Linked DNA regions of Homo sapiens: region 2 is linked to region 1. The links come from fine-mapping of genetic effects on gene expression. A gene starts in region 1. The other region holds a variant in brackets. All regions are shown on one strand. Distances are between the middles of the regions.

What was found. PIP is the estimated chance that this variant, and not a neighbour inherited with it, causes the effect.
Region 2: its variant is the best candidate, but not a certain one, in a credible set for the expression of STK36 in whole blood (TOPMed, PIP 0.72).

The regions. Positions count from the first base shown.
Region 1 is chr2:218,668,182-218,676,518 of GRCh38, forward strand. It overlaps STK36 (serine/threonine kinase 36), which reads left to right and starts at 3,905. Exons shown (of 27, transcript NM_015690.5): 1 at 3,905-4,034; 2 at 4,560-4,732; 3 at 5,444-5,584; 4 at 5,698-5,775; 5 at 7,162-7,292; 6 at 7,848-8,097. The coding sequence starts at 4,649. It overlaps RNF25 (ring finger protein 25), which reads right to left and starts at 3,821. Exons shown (of 10, transcript NM_022453.3): 1 at 3,749-3,821; 2 at 424-498; 3 at 58-160. The coding sequence starts at 3,789. RefSeq lists an enhancer at 3,726-3,825.
Region 2 is chr2:218,799,515-218,807,851 of GRCh38, forward strand. The region is part of intron 1 of CYP27A1 (cytochrome P450 family 27 subfamily A member 1); the gene reads left to right. Among named protein-coding and RNA genes, the nearest start is that of MIR9500, 19 kb to the right of the region's middle. The variant A/G (reference allele first, on the strand shown) is at 3,866.

The sequences.
Region 1 (8,337 bases):
GTCCACCCCAGGGACTCTCCCCTTCCTCCCTTTGCTGCCACACAGTAGGGGCTTCACCTCTGCTGGGACCTGAAGCACCAGAGTGAAGCAGACATACTGTGAATCCTGGTCCTCTGCAGTGGCAGGATGCAAAGTGATGTAGATCTCCCATGGTGAAGTTCTGCAGGTGGATCAAGTGGACACGCAGATGTGACTGGGTAGGGGCTTGGGGGCTGGGGAGGATGGGGCTGAGACAGTGAAGTGGGCAAAGGAAGTACACATTGGACTCTTTCTTTTGGGGTAGGATTAAAGGAATAGCTTTTGTCTACACAAGAGAAATATTATCTCTGAATCAAGGCTCACAATGTCTTAAGACCCAAATTCAGCATAGAACCTCTCCTCATTACTAGGGGGACTCCTGCCCACCACTGGTTGAATACATACCTGCCATTTCCTTTAATCACCTGTAGTTCATCTAGATAGATGGACTCCAATACTTCAACTTCAGAGGGAAGGACCCTAGAGAGACAGGAGTAGACTAACTTACCATTACAGCTCTCCCTGTGGAAGCCTGCTAAGGCCAATAAAGGCAGGCTTTGTAGAAAAATGGCAATCTACCAGAATGCATTCTCCTGCTAAACTCCTTAAAAACAAGGAATATGTTACCTTAAGTTGTCAACTGGCCAAATAGAAGGCATGGAAATCAGAATTTTAGGCATCATTTCTGCCAACAGATGAAGAAGTGGATTCTAGAGAAGTAAAATGACTAACCAAGGCTTAACATAGGTAGAACTAGGCCCAGAGCCAGGTTTCCTGACTCCCTGTTTAAGTTTCATTCCCCTTAGTGGCTGAATCTCTGGTCTAGAGATATGGCACTCATTCATTAGCATTAACGTTACCAATATTACTCCAACCTTTCCCTACGTCACTGTCCAGTGTGGATCCCAGTGCCTTGGCTACTGTCTACATACAGTTTTAACACCAGTCACCCTAAGCCTTCTTAAAGGAGATAGCAACCTCAACACAACATATTTAGGGTGGTATAAAGGCTGTGTTGTAATGGAAGAGCCAGCAGCCTCGGAGTTAGTTAACAGGTACCAATCACTTACAAGCTATGCAATCTGGGACGTGACCTCTCTGTAAGCTTAAGTTATCCTGTCTGTCACATATAGATAATAACACCTACTCTCTAGGGTTATTGTGAGGATAAAAGGTGATTTGTTTACATAAAGTACCTAATAGTATCTGGGCTATCGTAGCTAGTCTACGTCCTCTTTTTTTCCTGTCTGTATATAACCTTCTCCCTTAGAAGGAAAGAGGGAAGGAAGGAGGTAATAGAGTACTCTGGATGTATTTATGACCTGGCTGTCTGGTTGATCTAGATCAGCCTGTTGAGGTTAGGATCCATGGTTCTGATGTAAATCAAGGGACACACATACTTAAGCATAGAAACAGCAGTTGTAATGAAATTGAAGCTGAGTGATCAGTTTGTGTCTACAGCTCTACCAAGTGATACATGGAAAAATGCACACTTTGCTTTCTCACACTGCTCCCTCTTCATTCTAAGAGTAAGGCTGCCCCAGCACGACCTATGTCAGTGTTGTTAAGTCTTAGGCAGAAACTTCAAAATATAAAATATAAAGCTTCACACCTCACAGATAACAGTGTAGTTCTGGCTGACATGGGAGTGGGAGTCTCACAGTACTACAGGCTGCTGCACTCATTGTTGCTGTCTCCATGGCTCAAGGTGTCTCCCCTGAATCTTAAAAGTTCCCCTGAACAGGTAAACTGTAAGTTATCCCAGCGCTTTGGGAGGCTGAGGTGGGAGGATCACTTGAGGCCAGGAGTTCGAGACCAGCCTGGGCAACAAAGCGAGACACTATCTCTACAAAAAATAAAAAATTAACTGGACACGGTGGTCCCAGCTACTTGGGAGACTGAGGCAGAAGAATCACGGGAGCCCAGGAGGTCGAGGCTGTAGTGAGCCATGATCTTGCCACTGTACTCCAGCCTGGGTGACAAAGTAAGACTCTGTCTCTTAAAAAAAAAAAAAAAAAAGAAGTTTCCCTGAACACTTTGAAAACCAGTAGTCTAGATACTCTTAATAACGGCCAGTACTAGCTGGGCTCCCTGAACCAATGTAACATTGAGGTGTAGCCTCAGTCAAGTGGCCCTTCAATACTTCGCCCACCCTAGTTATATGGGTCCTGGATGGGATGGTGGTAAGGTGGTGACAACAAAATGGGGGAGGGGGGCCGGGCGCGGTGGCTCAGGCCTGTAATCCCAGCACTTTGGGAGGCTGAGGCGGGTGGATCATGAAGTCAGGAGATAGAGACCATCCTGGCTAACAGGGTGAAACCCCGTCTCTACTAAAAATCACAAAAAATTAGCTGGGTGTGGTGGCGGGCGCCTGTAGTCCCAGCTACTCGGGAGGCTGAGGCAGGAGAATGGCATGAACCCGGGAGGCGGAGCTTGCAGTGAACCGAGATTGCGCCACTGCACTCCAGCCTGGGCGACAGAGCAAGACTCCGTCTCAAAAAAAAAAAAAAAAAAAAAAAAAATTGGGGGAGTGGGGACTGAAGAATGTCCTAGTACAAAGAATCTAAGGTGTGGAGTCAGACAGATATGGATTTCTATTCATAATTTTCTATCTTTTGGCAAATCACTTTACTTCTTTGGGACTCATCTAGTCTTCCCAGGTGCCTGCACCTCAGTTATTAATGAAAAGGAGGCCGGGTGTGGTGGCTCACGCCTGTAATTCCAGCACCTTGGGAGGCTGAGGTGGGAGGATCACTTGAACCCAGGGGTTCAAGACCAGTCTGGCCAACATGGCAAAACTCCGTCTCTACAAAAAATACAAAAATTAGCCAGGCATGGTGGCACACACCTGTAGTCTCAGCTACTCGGAAGGCTGAGGCAGAAGGATCACCTGAGCCTGGGGAGGTCGAGGCTGCAGTGAGCCGTAATCGCACCACCGCACTCCAGCGTGGGCGAGAGTGAGACTCTGTCTCAAAAAACAAAACAAAACAAAACAAAAAACAGACTTAAGTATATTACAAATCCGTCGTGATCCTCTCAACTATTCTGAGGTAAATGCCACACCCACTTTTTTTTTTTACAGCTGAGGACACTGACTCACAGAAGCTAGATGGCCTGTTCAGCATCACACAGCTAATAAAATGTGGAGTTAACCCACATTGATCCTACTTCCAAATCCCAGAGTCCTTCCATGTTCTAGTCTTTGGTTAAGAATGCTTGAGAGAAGGACTAGAGGGACTTTATATGAAGTGTAAAGCTTTATTCATACAATAGTCCTCACTAGTGCTGTGTGAGAGAGAGAAGGCTGAGGAAAGCGTCGGCGGAAAAAGGCTGATCCAAGGGGAAAGGGGGCCGGAACTGGAGGGCACTGGTTCTGAGAGGAGAAAGGGAGATGGGGAGGTCTGATGGGCAGGCATCCCCCAAAGCCCCTGAGAAAATTCATTTGAGGAGGAGAGAAAGGGATGGCGTGAAGCTGGAGGAAAAGGGATCGAACCGGATGCGGCGAGGCCTGAACTGGCCTGGCGGGCGCCGACCCGTTCTCCTCTCACTCAGATCAGCGCCCCTCCACCCTCCCGTTCCCCAGTCCAGCTTTCCCAGAGATGTCAGCATCTCTGCCATCCCTCATCCCTCGCTCCACCCCACACGCCCGCCGTACGGACCGTCTGCGACAGCTGCTAGGCCTCTGGACTAGATCCAGGCTGTCAGCCAAAGCCCATGCCCCCAAAGTTACCAGTCCTCCTCCCCTGCAGCTGCAGACGCAGACGCCGCCATATCTTCACCGGCCCGCAGCCGGAACCGGAAATGCCCTTAGGGAAGTCGGAGGCGGAAAACTAAGAGGGGTGGGCAGCTAGCGTCGTTTCTAGGCAACCGCAGACTCCGGGTCCTTAGCCGGGCCTGATGGCCCTGAGGCAGTTCGGATGTGTCCCAGGAAGTGCCCATGTGTGGTCCGCCGTCCATTCCACACCTCTGAGCGCCTTTGTCCTCTGAACTTCTCACCAGTTCTAGCGAGTAAAATTGTAAGAAAGGGAGCCGAAAGAGACCGGAGGGAGAGGCGGGTGGAGAAGAATTATAAGTCAGGCAACGTATGCAGGCAGCCAGAAGAGATGGGGCTAAACGCCAGGGAATCCGTCCCTTGGCCTGAGGAGCTTGGAGCTCCTAGGCTGGGGGTGAGAGAGGGGCTCTGGCCTGCGAAGCGCACGGGCCAGGGGGTCTGAGAGCGGGTGCTGAGGAGTCTGGGAGTGGCAGGAACTTGGGGGAGACTCAAAGGAGCAGGGTTGGTTGGGCGAGGCTAGGTTGAAAGAGTAGGGTCGAGTGAGCCAGGCTGGGTGAGGGAGAAGGGGAACCAGGTGTTAGTTGGGCATGGGGCCGGGTTGGGGACAGGAGGATGAAAGTGGGGAGGAACTACAAAGAGAAGCTCTGTTTGTTCCAAGAGCGCATCATCTTTGCATGCATTCCACCCTCCCATGTTTTTTGAGGCTTTATTGTGAAAAAGAGGAAAAGGCAAGGTGGCTAACATTTTTCCTTTCCCGTGCCCCAACTAGGCGTCCCAGATGTTGTGGAACTGTCCCTGGATCTATAGCTCTTCACCGTCTCTACTTTCTTCCTTCTAAGAGATCCTGAAACCTCTGTCATGGAAAAGTACCACGTGTTGGAGATGATTGGAGAAGGCTCTTTTGGGAGGGTGTACAAGGGTCGAAGAAAATACAGTGCTCAGGTGTTGCACAAAGAGGGATACCTTTTGGGTGGGATTTGGTACCCCCAACTCCAGTGGAAAATGGATCTAGAAGGAATGTATTTATACCAGTTTGTATTCCTAAGGTACTGACTCCCTCATACTTCTTATGGAGTATAAGCTTTGAAGTTGGATTATTTGGGTGCAAATTCCATCTCCACCGCTTTCTAGCCCTAGAATTATGGACAAATTACTTAACTTCCCTATGTCTCAATTTCCTTATCTCTAGAATGGGGATAAGAACAGCAACTGATTGATGGAGTTTGAGGATTAAATATGTTTTCACATTAAATCACTTAGTACAGTGCCTGGCTGTTAGTAAACAACAAATATTATTAGTCTCTAGCACACCATGTAATAAGAGGTAAACCACTTGAACTCTATTATTTCCTCTTCATTTTTTTTTTCCTTTCCTTTCTCCTAAATCTCATCTTGAGTGCTGGTCAAATCAGAACACTTCTTCCAGAAGGGGAAATGTTTTGCAGATGCTGTTTCCTCCTGGGATGAGGAATGGGGAAAGCCTGGATAAGGCCAGGGTACCATGGAGAAAATGGAAGCGGGAGACTAACAGAAATAATAAGAGTTACTCAAACACTCTAAAATCTGACTTCTGGAGCTCTGAGATTAAGGCTGAAATTCTAGATCTTTTCAGTAGTGTGATTAGGCGTTAACTTTTCACCTTACCACTGACAGGTCGTGGCCCTGAAGTTCATCCCAAAATTGGGGCGCTCAGAGAAGGAGCTGAGGAATTTGCAACGAGAGATTGAAATAATGCGGGGTCTGCGGCATCCCAACATTGTGCATATGCTTGACAGCTTTGAAACTGATAAAGAGGTGTGCTTTGACAGTTTTGGGCCCTGTCTCCCCAAGCACAAGGGTTCCAGGAATTTCCCAACCTCAGAATGCATGAATCTGGAGCCATCAGTGCCACTGCCTTCTCTCTGTAGGTGGTGGTGGTGACAGACTATGCTGAGGGAGAGCTCTTTCAGATCCTAGAAGATGACGGAAAACTTCCTGAAGACCAGGTATGCTTTCTGCCTTCAACTTCTCCCCACCTCCGACCTCTCTCCAGGTTAGAGAACTGGTAGAGCAAGCTAAGGACACTGAGAGTCTCCATTTCAAAGACTTCTGAGAAGAATATAAGAGTCTAGGTATATAGAGGCAGTGTAGTGTGGGAGTAAATTATGTAAACGTTGGAGTCAAAATATCTGAGCAGGAAGCTTGGCTCTGCTCCTTCCTAGCTGGGTCTCATTGGACAAGTTACTTTAATTTCTTTGTGCTTAGTTTCCTAATTTGTAAAATGGAGATAATAATCATGTTTGCCTGATAAGTCTATGATGAAGAGTGTTAAGTCATGTAATGTGTTTGAATAGTTAGCTATTATTAACATTATTGTTATTAGATACCTTTAGGGAAGAAGGGCCAGTGTAATGGTACCAGAAAGAGGGCAGTAAGAATAAAGGTTGTGGGGAGTCAGGATTTGGCACCAGGACGTAGTGGTTAGCAGTGGGATTTTGTTGCACATATCCTCCAGCCACATTTATTCTAGGCGTTTGTCTGTACCCAAGCAAGTAGGCCCCCCCTGGGATTCATTATTGCAGCATTCTCTTTCCTTCTGAGCACTCACCACTATTTGTAAGTAATCATATTTTTGAAATTATTTTATTTTTAATTGAATTTTATTTTTTGAGACAGAGTCTCGCTTTGTTGCCCAGGCTGGAGTGCAGTGGCACAATCTTGGCTCACAGCAAACTCCGCCTTCCAGGTTCAAGCAATTCTCGTGCCTCAGCCTCCCCAGTAACCAGGATTATAGCATGCGCCACCATGCCTAGCTAATTTTGTACTTTTAGTAGAGATGGGGTTTCACCATGCTGGCCAGGCTGGTCTCGAACTGCTGGCCTCAGGTGATCTGCCCGCCTCAGCCTCCCAAAGTGCTGGTATTACAGGTGTGAGCCACCACGCCCGACCACCATATTTGTTTTATCTGTCTTGTTTGTTTGTCTGACTACTTTTCTTGAAAAAAGGCATTTTGTCTTATTTAATAACAGGTAATGTGTATTGAATATTTACTATGTGCCAGGCACCATTCTGAGTATTATTTTGCATGCTTTAACTCAGTCCTCACAATAATCCTCCATGTAGATGGTGTTATTATATAGATTGTCACCTTAGTTTGCCCATGGTCAAGCAGATAGTAAATGAGATTCAATAAATTTTTCTTGAATGAATGAATGAGCAAATGAAAGAGTGATTAAACAAGGGGAACAATAACTAAGAAAGAATAGTGTGAAGCTCTGCAAGAAAGGGAAGGAAGAAAAGATTAGCAGTAATATTAAGAGAAATTTTTGGGCTTGTCAGCCAGCTGCTGTTTCTAACCTTTTTTTTCTTTCTTCCACCTCTTTAATTTCTAGGTTCAGGCCATTGCTGCCCAGTTGGTGTCAGCCCTGTACTATCTGCATTCCCACCGCATCCTACACCGAGATATGAAGCCTCAGAACATCCTCCTCGCCAAGGGTGGTGGCATCAAGCTCTGTGACTTTGGGTAAAGATTCTGAGCATCCATCTAAGCTTCCAGTTCCACACGGAATCTTTTTTTTTTTTTTTTTTTTTGAGATGGAGTTTCACTCTTGTTACCCAGGCTGAAGTGCAATGGTGCGATCTCCACTCACCACAACCTCTGCCTCCCGGATTCAAGCAATTCTACTGCCTCAGCCTCCAGAGTAGCTGGGATTACAGGCATGTGCCACCATGCCTGGCTAATTTTATATTTTTAGTAGAGATGGGGTTTCTCCATGTTGGTCAGGCTGGTCTCGAACTCCTGACCTCAGGTGATCTGCCCACCTCGGCCTCCCAAAGTGCTGGGATTACAGGCATGAGCCACTGAGCCTGGCCCCACAGGGAATCTTAGACCATACTCTTGACTTATTTGGGCCTCATTTTAGAACCGGAGCTAGAGGCTGGGACTGCTGCTGGGTCTTCTGGAACCTAATCAAAGGTGCTCCCTCTGCTCCGGTTTGGGATATCTCTATGTTAGGTAGTAGTGACCAGGTTTAGAATATCTTTTCCCTTTCCATTTCCATCCCATTATCTTCTGCAGATTTGCCCGGGCTATGAGCACCAATACAATGGTGCTGACATCCATCAAAGGCACACCACTCTATATGTCTCCAGAGCTGGTGGAGGAGCGACCATACGACCACACAGCGGACCTCTGGTCTGTTGGCTGCATACTATATGAACTGGCAGTAGGCACCCCTCCCTTCTATGCTACAAGCATCTTTCAGCTGGTCAGCCTCATTCTCAAGGACCCTGTGCGCTGGCCCTCAACCATCAGTCCCTGCTTTAAGGTAATGAATATTGAAAGGGAGATGACTTTTACATTAGAAATCTGTCTCCCTCTATCTCTGTTCCTTTTTCCAAATCCTTTTCCAGAGCTGAGGCGGGACTTTGCAGTTACTGAATTAATGGCTGTGTTATTCTGTTCTCGCATTGCTATACAGAACCACCTGAGACTGGGTATTTTATAAAGAAAAGAGGTTTAATTGGCTCACAGCTCCATAGCCTGTACAGGAAGGATGGCTGGGGAA
Region 2 (8,337 bases), 130 kb after region 1:
CCTCCTTCTGTAAGTTTGGGGCTGCTTCCTCTCTGACTGTTAAGGGGGCAGCCGGCAGGTTAACAAAAACTTGCTTGCCTGACTTTGAGTCTATTTTTCCTTTCTCTCGGGTAACCTCACACCAACCTCCATAATCATGTGAGCCAATTCTGTAAAATAAATCTTTCCCTATATACATACATCCTATTGTTTCTTTTTTTTTTCTGGAGAATCCTTATTAATATATCCACAAAATTACATCAGTCCACTGTCCAATCTGAGAGTTTCTTCCAAATCCAGTTAAAGTAATTTTTTGACCATAACCATGGGTATTTCTCGGTGCCCCAATGACTTGTGCCCAGTGTCGGAAAAGGCTGAACAGGTTCGACAACTGTGGTTGCCATCAAGTCCCCAGCACACCTTGATCAGTGCATAAAGCCTCTGATCCTCCTTAGAGAAGGAGGGACTTGGGTTTCTGCCCTAGTCCTGTTCATCTTGACGGGGGTAAGATCTTGCCAAAACACAAGGAGACAGATGACTGCAATGCAAGTTGTGGGGTACCTCCATTGCTGAGAAACTCCTGCTAGACCGCAGCCAAGGGGTTTTATGTTCTGCGACTCTTTTCTGAGGGAGAATAAGGCAGAAAGTCCATATCTCAGAACCTGAGAGGTGATGAGAAGCTGTCTTGGGACACCTCTGAGGAAGATGGGGAGGCCAGTGAAGAGTGGGAGGGGCCTCCCATTCTTCGGTGTTCCAGGAGGATCACAGGGCAATCAGTCTTCAAGGCTCAGGGAAGGCTGAGTCCAAGCCTTTGTTTATATGGAAGGTCTTAACGGTGCTATGGCAAAGTAACGCAGCCTGGTAGAAGAAATAAAGATAAGACACTCCAAGTCAGCCAGTGTTATTTTGTGTGGTGGCTCACAAAAAAATAAAAATAAATAAACAAATAAATAAAAACACATGACCATGAGACAAGCACTTTCTTTTCCTATAAAAATTACCTTTAAAAAAATCACATAAATATGAGTTACGATTACATGCTAATTTTGTGGCTATATACCACATTTAATAGAAAATGCCATTTAGAATTGAAATAACTTGCAGAAGTAGTGTATGCATATTTTAGAGAAATGAGAAAATATAAAGAAACAAAAAGAAGAAAATCTAAATCTTCCATAATCCCAACACCCATCACATAGCACAATGCCTTATACCCATAGGTTCTTAATAAGCGCTTGTGAAATGAATACATAAATACACCCATATGTTGTTATAAGCATATGGGGAAAGCATTATCTGTTTTCCCCATATGTCATCTACATATATATGTTTTTTAAAATAAAAGCATACCATATGCTCTCTTTTGTAACTTGCCATTTTACAGAAAAGTAAATATGAATATCTTTTTCAATAAACACACTTATATAACAATTTTTAATGGCTGAAAAGCATTTCATTGGATGGCTACATCAGAATTTACTGGACCCTGTTGGTATACTTTTAGATTTTTTATGTATAAAGCTTTGATTAACATTAATCTATCTAGCACTAAATGTTTGTGTACATTCTCAATTATTTTCTTAGAATAAAACTCCTAAAATGGAACCATTGTGATAAAGGATTTTGTTCGGATCTTTGATATGTAGCACCTGCCAAATTGTCTTCCAGAAAAGTTACAAAGAAAATAGTTTTGCATGACAAAGGGCAGTCCAAAAAACAAAAACAGGGCCACATGTGGTGGCTCACGTTGTTTGTAATATCAGCACTTTGGGAGGCCGAGGTGAGTGGATCACGTGAGGTCAGGAGTTCGAGACCAGCCTGGCCAACATGGTGAAACCCTGTCTCTATTAAAATACAAAAAAATTAGCCAGGCATGATGGTGCACACCTGTAATCCCAGCTACTCAGGAGGCTGAGGCAGGAGAATCGCTTCAACCTGGGAAGTGGAGGTTGCAGTGAGCTGACATGGTGCCACTGCACTCCAGCCTGAGCAACAGAGTGAGACTCCATCTCAAAAAAAACCCAAAAAACAAAAACAATTATTTTTTGCAAATAAGTACATGCAGAATATATATCACAAAGACATACCATTTTCAACTATGATATTTGCAAAAACAGTCTCTGCAAATATCATAGTTGAAAGTGGTATATCTTCATGATATATATTCTGCATGTTCTTATTTGTAAGATTGGACCTATTTTCTGCATAGATATACTATTTATATTTCTTTTTTTGTAAATTCCCTATTTCTGTTTTTATGTCTATTTTTCTAACGAGTTTTTGAATTGTGTATTCATACATATTTTCTTCTTGTATTTTTGTAGTTTCTTTTAAAATCTTTATCCCACCTGGGATTAGTTTCTGTGTATGGTGTGAGGTGCACAAGGCAGGTGCCTGACCAAGGGGTCACATGAGGAGCAGGAATGGAGCCTGCATTTGACTTGCCAGGCCCTGGGCTTTGGCTGGGGCTGCAGCTGCTAGCAGGCTTTTTTTTTTTTTTTTAATTCCTATTTAAGGCACTCTTTAGGCCAGCAATGACCACGGATGTGGGTTCTAACTATACTTTCTCCCCAAATAATCAACTAGTTGCTTTAATGACATTTGTTCACTTATTTGTTTCCTCTTATTTAAGACTAGGCTAAGAACAATCGGAATTAGTTTAGCCCGTGCGGCCTAGCCCTAGCCAATAGGGGAACGACACAGCAGCAGGGGCCACGTGCGTCACGGATAAGAACCCCTTCCCCTCCCTTGTCCAAGTGTGCGCTCACCATTGCTCCATCTGTAAGGGTGCACCCTCCATAGAAGTAACTTGCCTTGCTGAGAATTAAAAAGAAAATTAAAAAAAAAAAAGACTAGGTTAAGATGTGAAGAAACAGAACTACTTGCGTTGTTACTCCATGCTTTTTCCATCTGCTAATTATTTATTTACTTCCTATAAGGTCTTTACTATTTCTTGCTCATTCAAAGAGCTTTGATTCTCAGGATGCATGAGTTTGTGCTGCTTTTTGGAACGTTGTTCTAGCAGCTTGTCAAAAGTGAGGAAGCACTCACATTTCTGTTTACTCTTCCAGAAGGCTGCTTACTACGAGTTTGTTGCTGGAAGAAAAATAGTACTCCATTTCCTGTAGAAAAGAGAGACAGCCGATGTTTTCTTCGGAGGGCAAATAAATAAGAATAAACCCAGCCTCTGCTCCCTTATCTAGGATCTAGGAACTGATACTGTTATTTTCTTTTTTTCTCTCTTTTTAAGCCATTCTAGTGGTTAACAGTGGCTTTGGTTTGCATTTCCTTAATGACAAATGATGTTGAACATCTTTTCTTGTGGTTAACAGTGGCTTTGGTTTGCATTTCCTTAATGACAAATGATGTTGAACATCTTTTCTTGTGATTATAGGCCATTTGCATATCTTCATTGGAGAAATGTCTATTCAAGTTCTTTGCTTATTTAATTAATTAATTTATTTATTTTGAGGCAGAGTCTCATTCTGTCACTCAGGCTGGAGTGCAGTGGTTTGATCTCGGCTCACCGCAACCTCTGCCTCTTGGGTTAAAGTGATTCTCATGCCTCAGCCTCCCAAGTAGCTGGGACTACAAGTGTGCGCCATCACGCCTGGCTAATTTTTGTATTTTTAGTAGAGACAGGGTTTTGCCATATTGGCCAGGCTGGTCTTGAATTGCTGGTCTCAAACTCCTGGACTCGAGTGATCTGCCTGCCTTGGCCTCCCAAAGTGCTGGTATAATGGGCGTGAACCACCACGCCCAGCCATTCTTTGCTTATTTTTAAACTGAATTTGTCTTTTTGTTGTTGGGTTGTAACAGTTCTTTGTATACTCTGGATATTAAACCCTTATCAGATATATGATTTACAAATATTTTCTCTCGTTCT[A/G]TAAGCTGTCTTTTCACATTCTTGATAATGTCCTTCGAGGCACAAAAGTTTTAAATTTCTTTTTTGAGACCGAGTCTCGTTCTATTGCCAGGCTGGAGTGCAGTAGTGCGATCTTGGCACTGCAACCTCTGCCTCCCAGGTTCAAGCAATTCTTCTGCTTCAGCCTCCCAGGTAGCTGGGACTACAGGCACACGCCACCACACCCAGCTAATTTTTGTATTTTTAATAGAGAAGAGGTTTTGCCATGTTGGCCAGGATGGTCTCGATCTCTTGACATCGTGATCTGTCCACTTCGGCCTCTCAAAGTGCTGGGATTACAGGTGTGAGCCACCGTGCCCCCGTCTTTTTTTTTTTTTTTTTTTTTTTTTTTTAGATGGGAGTTTTACTCTGTTGCTCAGGCTGGAGCGTATTGGTGCAATCTCAGCTCACTGCAGCCTCCACCTCCCGGGTTCAAGTGATTCTCCTGCCTCAGCCTCCCGAGTAGCTGGGACTACAAGCATGCGCCACCACACCTGCCTAATTTTTGTATTTTTAGTAGAGATGGGGTTTCACCATGTTGGCCAGGCTAGTCTTGAATTCCTGACCTCAGGTAATCTGCCCACCTCGGCCTCCCAAAGTGCTGGGATTACAGGTGTGAGCCACCATGCCTGGCCAAAAGTTTTTAATTTTTATGAAGAACTATTTATCTATTTAAAAAAAATTCCTCATGCATTTGTTATCAAATCTAAGAATTCATTGACATATCCAGGGTCATGAAGACTTACCCTTATATTTTATTCAGAGTTTTATAGTTTTAGCTCTTCTTTTTAGATTGTTGATCCATTTTGAATTAATTTTTGTATATGGAGTGAGGTAGGGGTCCAGCTTCATTCTTTTGCATTTAGTTATCCAGTGGTCCCAGTACCATTTGTTGAAGAGACTTTCTTTCCCCATTGAATGGTCTGTGCACCCTTGTCAAAAATCAGTTGACTGTAGATGTTCTAGTGTATTTCTGAATTCTCAGTTGTATTCCATTGGTCTATATGTCTACACTTACACTAGTAACTTACTGTTTTGATTACTGTAGCTTTGCAGTAAGTTTTGAAATCAGAAAATGGGAATGTTCCAACATTGTTTTCTTTTTTAATATTGTTTTGGCTATTTAGGGCCCCTTGCAGTTCCATATTAATTTTAGGATCAGGTTTTCCATTTCTGCAAAAAGGCTATGGAATTTTGAAAGGGAATGCATTGAATTTGTAGTTTGCCTTGGGGAGTACTGCTGTTTTAACAATATTAAGTCTCCTAATCCATGAACATGGATGACTTTCCACTTATTTAGGTCTTTAATTTCCTTCAGCAGTGTCTAGTAGTTTTCAGTGTTCAAATGTTTCACCTCCTTGGTTAAAAGTATTCCTAGGTATTTTATCTTTTGGATACTATCATTAGTCTGTTTGGGCTGCCATAACAAAATACCACAGACTGGATGGCTTAAACAACAAATTTATTTTCTCACAGTTCTGTAGGCTAGAAGTGAGAGATCAGGGTGCCAGTGGTTGGTTTCTGATGAGGGCTGTCTTCCTGGCTTGTAGTTGGCTGCCTTCTTCCTGTGCCCTAGAGGGCAAGCTCTCTGGTGTCTCCTATTATGAAGACACTAATTCTATCAGATCAGGGCCCCACCCTTATGACCCCATTTAACCTTAGTTACTTCCTTAGAGGCCCCATCAACAAATGCAGCAACACGGGGTTTAGGGTTTCAACATAAGAATTTGAGGGGAGTGCAGACATTCAGTCCAAAACAGAGGTTATTGTAAATGGAATTATTTTCTTAATTTCCTTTCAGATTGTTCTTCCAGGTTCTTAAAACTCTAGACGAGCTACTGTTAACAAGTTTCCTACGTATCCTCTTCCCCACCCCCTTTCTATGTCTGTCTCTGTCTCTCTCATGTTCTTTGCATTGTCTGCAACATGTTTCTTTCTGCTGGATTCATTGACAACTGTTAAGTATGTACTGAGTGTCTTATTAATGTGCTTAGCAGTGTGCCCAACAATTTGGGATGTCATAAAGAAGTATGACATGGTTTTCACCCATGAGGATTTTCAATTTAGTTGAAGAGACAAGACATCCGCAAAATAATTAGAAAACTGTTTAGGAACATATGTAATCAAATTCTCAACTGTCTGGCCCATGCACTAGGATAAGAACTCCTTAAGAATGGTCTTTTATGCTGTGCTTACTGCTGTATCCCTAGGAGGAACAGGACATGAGATTCATAAATGAATGTTGAATGAATTCAACATTCTCCTGCTTTGGAGTTTTGTCAGGTGGGGGCTAACCCTCCCATTCATCCTGAAAGATGATCTTTGTTCTGCAAAGTGGCTCTTAGACAGGACCCATCCGAGAATGCTGGGACTTTCCAACTGGCTCAGGTTACGATCTAATGGTAGGATCACAGACACAGCACGCATCTCTCAGCAAGTATCCTGCTGTCTTTCTAAAATAACTTCTTACATAAGTAGATCCTTGTTAAGTTCCACTAAGTAAACTAACTGAGGAGCATGAAGGAAGAAGGCATGGCTTAGCTAAAAGGAGAAATGTCCCAGAAACCTCCATACTGACAGCCAGGAAGTAGTCTCAGAGGCTTTGGATTCCAGGAAAGAAGCTGGTATTGTTTTTCTACTTTAAAAATATAACTTTTTTTCTGCTGATTCCAAGAACGTGGCAAAAAATTTTTGAAAAATAAATCACAGTATAGAGAAGAAAGTAAGTTAATTTGTAAAGCACTGTTTACCACCATTGAGATAACTGCTGTTCAGATTTTTATTAAAATGTTATACATAAGTTTACTTCAACTTAACAGAAGGATAAGAAACCAAACTTTAGAAAAATATTTCTTCAAAATGGTATATATTTGTTTTAAACAGGTCTTCTAAAATTAAAGAATTAGGAGACATATTAAGAGGCTGGACTTATTGCAGTAGTTCTCAATCTATGGTGATTTCATCCCCCAGGGGACATTTTGGAAATGTCTAGAGACATCTGTGGTAGCCACAACTCAGAGGGGGTGCGGTACTTGTGGGGAGAGGCCAGGAATGCTGCTAGGCACCCGGCAACGCACACCACTGTCGGCTACAACATAGAATTATCCACTCCGAGTATTAACAGTGCCACAGTTGAGTAATCCTGGGTTGTTATTGCATAATATTGTGGTTTTAAAATAGTACACGCTTTTCAAGGGCCTACGTTTGTTTCCAGTTAGAAGGACATAGTTGTTTTCTCAGGGATCCGTGGAGTAAGTGGTTCAGAGCATGGCCTCCAGCCAGGTGTTTGGAGTTTGAATCCTGACTCTGCTACTTAATGATAAAGTGACCTTGAGCAACTTCTTTGGGCCTCAGTTTCCTCATCGGCAAAATTGTGGTAATATTAAACCTACCCCAAACAGCTGTAGTGAGGATTGAATGAGCTAATATAAGTAAAATTCTTGGAACAGTGTCTGGTTCATGGTCAGCTCTATGGAAACACGTGCAATTATTATTGTTAATGTCTTAAACTGGAAACAAATTAAGCCTACTTTTAGGACAGGTCTCCTAGGGAATTTTTTTTTTTTTTTTTTTTTTTGAGATGGAGTCTCACATTGCCACCCAGGCTGGAGTGCAGTGGCATGATCTTGGCTCACTGTAACCTCCTCCTCCTCCCGGGTTCAAGCGATTCTCCTGCCTCAGCCTCCCAAGTAGCTGGGATTACAGGCGCCCACCAACATGCCCAGCTAATTTTTTGTATTTTTAGTAGAGACGGCGTTTCACCATGTTGGCCAGGTTGGTCTCGAACTCTTGACCTTGTGATTTGCCCACCTCAGCCTCCCAAAGTGCTGGGATTACAGGCGTGAGCCACTGTGCCCGGCCCTCCTAGGGAATTTAATAGAGGAAAATAGATGTGTATGTAAAGTATTTTTTAAAAAGCAACCTTTAAGGAAAAAAACAAAACTCACTCACAGGAAAATGATATGGCTGGGGCACTTATAAATCTAAGGAGTATTTACAGGAATTCAGAGGCTCAGCAAGGATTCCCTGCCTTCTAGAACTATCTGGTCAATGTCAGGTGACTTACTGTTTCAGAAAACATTTCTTTTTGTACCTTTAGACTTTAAAAATTTGAATAGGTAATACATTATCATAGTTCAAGACTCAAACAATAGAACATGATACACACTAAGCAGTCTGACCCCCTCCGCTGCTCCCCTGACCCTCCCATAGTAATCACTTTATATTTATTTATTTAGAGACAGAGTCTCACTCTGTCATCTAGGCTGGAGTGCAGTGGGTACAGTCATGGCTCAATGCAGCTTTGACTTCAAGCAATTCTCCCACCTCAGCCTCCGAGTAGCTGGAATCACAGGCGCACACTGCCATGCCCAGCGAATTTTTTTTTTTTTTTGTAGAGGCAGGGTTTTGCCATGTTGCCAAGGCTGATCTCAAACTCCTTAGCTCAAGTGATC